2 linked regions of the Homo sapiens genome follow. The protein of the gene in region 1 purifies or fractionates together with the protein of each later gene. This does not show direct contact. Each region holds a gene or a part of one and is shown in the gene's direction. Other genes may lie near its edges.

Region 1 (3,813 bases):
CTCAGAGTGAAAGGACCCCGTCCCCTAGCTCCAGGCCTCAGGGTGACTTGTGGGCTGGCTCAGCTCCGTGTCCTCTCCTCTTCCCTGGAGCTGTGACTGTGGGAAGCCTGAGGCAGCGCTGGGCTGGCCAGAGAAGGGTGCCGGAAAGAGCCTCCAGGGTCTCCAGCATGCTGGAGCCAGTGGCAGTTTTAGTGAAGCTGACAGTGATGGTGACACTGATGATGACATGTGGTGACATGGACAGTGATGGTGACACGAATCGTGATGTTGCAAAGGCAGCATTGGTGCTGGTGGCAGTGCTGGTGACAGTGGTGGTCACGACCCTTCCACAAGAGGAGATACTGACAGTGGGAACACTGTCCACCTTTCTGCCTCTGGAGAGGGAGGAGGGGCCTCTTCTTGCCAGCCATAAGGGCTGGCATATGCAGGGGGGTAAAAATAGAACCTCAGCGGCGCTGTCTCCCCTTCCAGTGAGGGCGGGCACAGGCTGGGGATGGAGGAGCTGGCTGTGAGGGCAGTCTGCAGCAAACGTGATCTTCCCCGCTCTGAACCTCTGTGCCTGATACAACCCACCAGGGTCTGCCCCAGGAGCAGGGTCTGCCTCCCTGGATGGACTGGTGGCTCCTTGGGCAGGAGGGTCCCTGGGGCTGGGGATGCTTGCGTCTTCCCAAAGCAGACGCCTGGGAAATATGGATGTCCACCTGGCATTCAGATTGACATCCGTGCTGACCCCTGAAGCCGGGTTGCTGGGTTCTCTTGCGAGGGTAGCCGTAATAAAGGGAGAGGCTGCATACAAAGTGCTTACGATCCCTGGACCTGACGTGAGATACCTGAATTCAGACTGGGCCAGTGATTTTACCTTTCTGAGCCTGGGTTTCCTCATCTCTGAAATGGGGAGAATAATAATACGCATGTTGTAGGGTGGTGTGTGGCCCCAGCTCTCCCAGCACTCAGAGGCGTCTCTCCCCCTGCTAGCGGAGAACTGGCCCCTTTAGCCAGTCCCTGACAGAGCCCTGCTGTCTGGTGGTTTGGGCTGTCCCGGGGACTCCTCCATACAGATGCTATGTAGGAGTCTTCAGCCTCAGCACTGACCGGAGCCCTTGCTTTTCTCTTGGCAGGATCGACAAGACCATGCTGGCAAGTCTGAAGGTCAAGTAAGTAGCAATTTCCTGTTCTGTAAAGGTCAGAGATGACGCGGATCAGAGCGCCGGGCCCTTGCTCCCCCCAGGTTGTGGGAGACACAAGAGGGGCTGTCGTGTTTGTCAGATTCCAGTCCGAGTCCATGGTGCTTCCAGATCGGAGGAGGCTGGACTAACTCTTATTCCTGGGGTGTTCAGGGAGAGGTAGAGGTGGGAATGGAATCACCAGGGGCTAGAATGGTGGGAGTGTGTGTAGCAGGTGTAACATTCAGTCCCATTATTCTTTTTTTTCTTTTTCTTTTTCTTTCTTTCTTTCTTTCTTTTTTTTTTTTTGAGACGGAGTCTTGCTCTGTTGCCAGGCTGGAGTGCGGTGGCATGATCTCTGCTCACTGCAACCTCCACCTTCCAGGTTCAAGTGAATCTCCTGCCTCAGCCTCCCAAGTAGCTGGGATTACAGGCGCCCACCACCACACCTGGCTAATTTTTGTATTTTTAGTAGAGACGGAGTTTCACCATGTTGGCCAGGCTGGTCTCAATCTCTTGACGTCATGGTCCGCCCACCTAGGCCTCCCAAAGTGCTGGGATTATAGGCGTGAGCCACTGCGCCTAGCCCAGACCCATTATCTTCCTATCACTTTAGTTTTTAGATATATATTGGGCTGGGCATGGTGGCTCACACCTGTAATCCCAGCACTTTGGGAGGCCGAGGTGGGTGGATCACCTGAGGTCAGGAGTTCCAGACCAGCCTGGCCAACATGGTGAAACCCCGTCTCTACTAAAAATACAAAAATTAGCTGAGCGTGATGGCACTTGCCTGTAATCCCAGATACTCAGGAGGCTGAAGCAGGAGAATCACTTGAACCCAGGAGGTGGAGGTTGCATTGAGCCGAGATCACACCATTGCACTCCAGCCTGGGGGACAGAGTGAGACTCTGTCTCAAAAAAAAAAAAAGAAAGATAATTACATTTTTTATCACTTTAATTTTTATGTGAACTCCCAATCCTGGCAGTGACTTTCTGACATTCCCCGCCTACTAGGACCTGACTAAACACTCCAGGGTATGTGTGTGTGTGTGTGTGTGTGTGTGTGTGTGTGTGTGTGTGTGTGTGTGTGATGTCAGCTGCTCATCAAGTCATTTGTTGCCAGGTATGTCAGCATGGGCAGCCTGGCCCTGGGGCTTTCTGAGGCTCCCACGCCAGACTCAGGGTGTGGGAATTACCTGCCTCGGTTTACCGTGTATCTCTTGGTCCGTCTGCTGAGGTCCGAAGCAGGCACAGCCCTCTCCTAGAACCTCTGACCTCTCTTCCCTCACCACCTTCATTCCTTTTTCCTCTGCGTTTCTGGCCAAACCATTTTGTCTGCATCCTGATCTCCTTTTTCTTTTGAGACTTAACCAAAGTGTAGCCTGCGTCCAGCTGCACCCCTCCCATGAGGCAATGAGTACTGGCTAACCATCTGCTCCAGTGGAGTGAATTGAAAAGGAGGGAAATTCTAGGAGGAAAAAAGCATTGGCCTCTAGCTCAAAATATTCTCCCGGCACATGTGAATTCACTGTTGCATGGAAAATTCCTCCAATGAATCGCCCTCCTTCCGAGGCAGCTTCTCTGGGTTGTCACTCCCCCATCTCGGCAGAAGGTTTTCCCTGCCTAGTCTCCCTCTGTCATGCCATTCAGTTGCCAGCCCTGGTTGTGTATCCCCTGGATGCAGGTCCCTGGGCAAAGTACGGCCAGTCTTGACGGTTGGCATAAAAGAGGGTCAAAATAAGAGGTTTCCCACTTTGGTTGGTTTTGTTCAAAAAGGTGAGGCTGGGCAGTTCGCAGGGCCGGGATGGAGGACAGACTTTTCCTGCCCTTCAAGAGCTTTCAGTTTCTCTGTTGAGCTGATGCCAGGAAGCTGGATGTGGTGGTTCACGCCTGTAATCCCAGTACTTTGGGAGGCCAAGGTGGGTGGATCGCCTGAGGTCAGGAGTTCGAGACCAGCCTGGTCAACATGGTGAAACCCTATCTCTGCTAAAAATAAAAAAAATTAGCTGGGCGCGGTGGCGGGCACCTGTAATCCCAGCTACTCGGCCGACTGAGGCAGGAGAATTGCTTGAACCTGGGAGGTGGAGGTTGCAGTGAGGCGAGATCGCACCACAGCCTGGGAGACAAGAGTGAAATGCCGTCTCAAAAAAAAAAGTCTAGAGCTGATGCCAGGAGTGCCATGGAGTAGTCCCGAAAGGCTGCCTGGAGGAGGTGGCCTCTAAAGTAGCTCTTAGAGATGAAGCAGGATAGTAGGACCCCCATGTCTGTGCTGGCTTGGCATGGTGTGTGCATCAGTGCAGACCCATTCAATCTGGAGGTGTCAGGGCAAGTCACCCGGGACAAGATGCTTCCCTTCTCTGGGCTTTAGTTTCCATATCTTTTGTCCAGTGGACACAATAATGTCTGGTTTTCCTAGAGCTTTCTAGAGCATATTTGCATACTGAGTGAGACGCCAGGCATGAAGCAGAGCTGCTAAGGGGTGTAGAGTGGTCAGAGTGTTCTTTTGGTGCTGTTTTGGGACATCTAGTTCAATCTCACAAGCACTTATCGAGGGAGGGCCTGTTTGTAAATATAATATCTGCAACCTGGAAGTGCACCAGTTATAGGGTAGAGTGAAAAGCTGGGGGCGTGGGCCAGGGTTGAGATTGGG
Region 2 (3,813 bases), on another chromosome or scaffold:
ATGATCCCAGCCAGGTGATCTCGGCCAGGTGCACCTCACAGCCTGGCAGCTGCCGAGATTCTAGGGGAGGATGCGCAGTCTCTGACTGCTGGAAAGGAATCTGGCAGAGAGAGGTGCAAGTGGAAAGTCAGTTCTCATGTTTACTGTAATGGGGGAGTTTGGGGAAAGACCAGGGGGGATGAGCAGTGGCTTCCCCTCTTCTCTGGGACCCAGAAAGCTGAACGCAGGAGCCCCATGCTGTTTCCACGAGGGGTTTGCCTCTATTTTTAAACAAACAGGTTTCTCCCACTTTGCTTAAATATTTGAGTGTAAGATTTGTGTGATTTCTCTTTTTTGAGCTCAAAACAATTGGGGAAGATATAGCTGGCCCTGGGGGATTCCTGTTGGGAAGGCAGCGAAGTGGGAGCTCTGGCCAGTTTGCTGGGCTGAGCGGGGTGCTGGCTGATGGAGAATTGCAGGCACCAGGAACCAGCTGGAGAGTGGGATAGCCCTGTGCCCAGGGGTCCTCTCCTCGTCTGTAAGGAATCGGGGCTTCTCATTCAGTTTCGAGACAGAACTCCTTCCCAGCAGGCTGAGGAGAAATGACTCTGCGGGGCTTAGCAAATTGATTTCATTTTTAGCCAGAACTTCAAGACCTGTGATTTTATCTGTTTGCCCTTTGCATGAGGACATCTGCTTCCTAAATTCTATCAGCATAGCCCAGAGGCTGCTCAGCCACTCTGCATTCCCCAGCGAGGTGGCACTGAGTCCTTCCAGAGCCAGGACCGTGAACCTTCCTGGACCCTGAGCCCAAGGTCGGAGTGGAACAGGATCCTGTGCAGAGCCAGCCAGCCACGGGGTCAGGGAGCCAGTTGGGTCCAGCCCGCAGATGGGCTGCCACTGTTTGCACTCAGCACAACCATCCACATCTTATGGCAACATTGGAACGTTGTGCTGAAGGTCTCAAATAAGAAAAGGGAAACAAAGAGAAATCGTGATCTGAAAAGTCAAAGAACTGGGCAGACAGGAGTAGCCAAACACACAGAGCTGGGTCTTGCCCCCACATTATGTTCTAGCCACGGCTGGAGGAGGAGAGGGAGGACAGGAATCCTGGATGTGTGGTGCTTCGTGGAAAGCACACGTGGAAAGCACCTTGTTGACCTGGACAGGACTGCATTACTCACCAGATGTGGACACAGTGCCTTTACTTTTACTTATTTACAACAGCGTAACAATCGCCTCCACAGAGCATGCTGAATTCCAGGGTGCTTTCCTGAACTACCACCAGAGACTCCGCTGGAAGCTACTTGGGAGATGCCTGGGTTTCCCCATTAGCCAGTCTTAATCATTGGGAGGAACTTGCTCTCTCTCCCAGTCTCTCTCCGCATCTCTTACTGGTCATGCTCCTTGCTATCTGGTGAAATCCAGCCACCCTGTGATAGATACACACCTCTCCGCATCCAGTGTGGCATTCCAGGGTAAACAGCCTGAGCTCTGAGCCAGCCTGAAGTGTGAGGCTACATTTTAGATAGAGAAACAGCCCAGGAGTGTAAGAGCATCGTGAAGGAGGCACCCGGCGCCTCTGCTGCCCCACCCCACAGCCTTCCCTCTGGGTGTCACCCGAGCTTGTCTCCTTTAAATGTTGGCTTTTATGTTTAAGGTGTGGCTGACTCACCCTGTTGCCTCTGTCCCCAGTTTCTGGCCCAGCTGAAGCTCATGGACTACAGTCTGCTGGTGGGAATTCATGATGTGGAGAGAGCCGAACAGGAGGAAGTGGAGTGTGAGGAGAACGATGGGGAGGAGGAGGGCGAGAGCGATGGCACCCACCCGGTGGGAACCCCCCCAGATAGCCCCGGGAATACACTGAACAGCTCACCACCCCTGGCTCCCGGGGAGTTCGATCCGAACATCGACGTCTATGGAATTAAGTGCCATGAAAGTAAGTTTGATTACTGTGGACCCTTTTTGCATGTGAAGTGGTTTGACTTTGGCCTTGTTATCTACCAGTAAGCACTACCCCAGTTATGAGGGTGCTGCCCGGCAGCACTCATCCTCCAAACTCCAAAGAAATGGATTTGGGGACAAGAGTATGTTAAAGCTAACCGTGATCTCAGTGCTGAAACATAAGGCGATCGGACCTTTGAATTCTGTGATGTTGAGGGAATACAGCAAAACCACGAACTATACTATACATGTACAACACACCTGTACATATGCACATACACACTGGCATACAACGTACGTGCACACACAACACAACATGCATGTACATATGCACACATACATGTTCACAAATAACATCAGAAATGCTTTAAAATATTAATACGTTTTTGCCTAGTTATCTTTTTTATCTAAGTCAAAAGCATCATGAGTCTAAGCTAGGCACATGCATGTGATCCTCTGTGACCCTTAGCTTGTCCTCTTGTCATTACCAACAGCCCTCTCCCTCTCAGGGGTGTGAAGGGTGTGTGAAGATGGGCCCTGTGGGTGGGGTGGGAATCTGATTTGCTGCTGAGTCTGGCTCTGCTGTCCTCCCCCATGGAAGGGCCTATGGCCCTCTTCCCTAGAGTCAGATAAATCTTAATCCACCGTATCCAGGTGATTGGGTGCACCAGTTATTTGAATATTACATCCTACCTTAGCAACTTATCCGTGACAATACCAAAATATTTTTGTGATAGGATAAAAACAGCTTCTTGGTTTTTGAATAATAAAAACTGTGGCTCATCAGTTGTTTTTTAATCTCAAATGGCATATCAGCTGAGGATCTGAGTTCTGTTTTGTTCTGTTTTGCTCACCAAAATGTTTTCTTCAACACAGAAAATTAGATAGTCAAATGTACTTTTCTTACTGTTCATATTTTTGGAAATGGATAGAAAACAGACACGGGCCGGGCGCAGTGGTTCATGCCTGTAATCCCAGCACTTTGGGAGGCCGCGGCAGGCAGATCACCTGAGGTCATGAGTTTGAGACCAGCCTGACCTACATGGAGAAACCCCATCTCTACTAAAAATATGAAATTAGCTGGGCATAGTGATGCATGCCTGTAATCCCGGCTACTCGGCAGGCTGAGGCAGGAGTCACTTGAACTCGGGAGGTGGAGGTTGCTGTGAGCCAAGATCGCACCATTGCACTCCAGCCTGGGCAACAAGAACAAAACTCTGTCTCAAAAAAAGAAAATAGACATTGGAGTGGATGTATGCCTTTATCCAGTTCTGATACTGTATCCAGTGAGAATTATGAACAGTTCTACCATTTGATGTAAAGGATTAGTGTACATAATTAGTTCTGTTTTATAGGGTATTTTTAAATAGCATATTTCTTCACACCAAAGCAATACACAATTATTAAAGAAAATGCAAATTAAAAAAAAAAAAAGACTCCGTTCCACCGTTGGATCTCCACTGTTGATACCCTGGTGTGATGATGTTTTTAGTTGTTAGGGTTGTTTCTTTTTAAATTGCAGGGGGACTGGGTCAGAGAGGCAAGCTGTGTGTTTAGTCAGGATCCGCAGGGGTGGTGTAGAGTTTGTCTCTGGACTCCTTCCATCCGCGTTCCATTGAATCCCCTCCCTCCAGGCTCACTTCTCCCTCCCTCCCTCCCTCAGCAGCAATGCTGGCACTGGTGTTGTCACATGTCCCACAGTCATTGCTCTCCTGTCTCTGCAGACTCGCCTAGGAAGGAGGTGTACTTCATGGCAATTATTGACATCCTTACTCATTATGATGCAAAAAAGAAAGCTGCCCATGCTGCAAAAACTGTTAAACATGGCGTGAGTATCTCCATTTTGTTTCCTTCTCTCTTTCTCTCCCTCTCTCTCTCTCTCTCTCCCTC

The links.
Region 2: the proteins of RAP1GAP2 (region 1) and PIP4K2A purify together in Homo sapiens (co-immunoprecipitation; one large-scale study listed by IntAct). This does not show direct contact.

What each region holds. Positions count from the first base shown.
Region 1 is NC_000017.11:2,799,397-2,803,209, forward strand, and holds part of RAP1GAP2 (rap1 GTPase-activating protein 2), read left to right. Parts: intron 1-1,118; coding exon 1,119-1,154; intron 1,155-3,813. UniProt on the Homo sapiens protein: GTPase activator for the nuclear Ras-related regulatory protein RAP-1A (KREV-1), converting it to the putatively inactive GDP-bound state.
Region 2 is NC_000010.11:22,539,909-22,543,721, reverse strand, and holds part of PIP4K2A (phosphatidylinositol 5-phosphate 4-kinase type-2 alpha), read left to right. Parts: intron 1-1,674; coding exon 1,675-1,918; intron 1,919-3,647; coding exon 3,648-3,751; intron 3,752-3,813. UniProt on the Homo sapiens protein: Catalyzes the phosphorylation of phosphatidylinositol 5-phosphate (PtdIns5P) on the fourth hydroxyl of the myo-inositol ring, to form phosphatidylinositol 4,5-bisphosphate (PtdIns(4,5)P2). Has both ATP- and GTP-dependent kinase activities.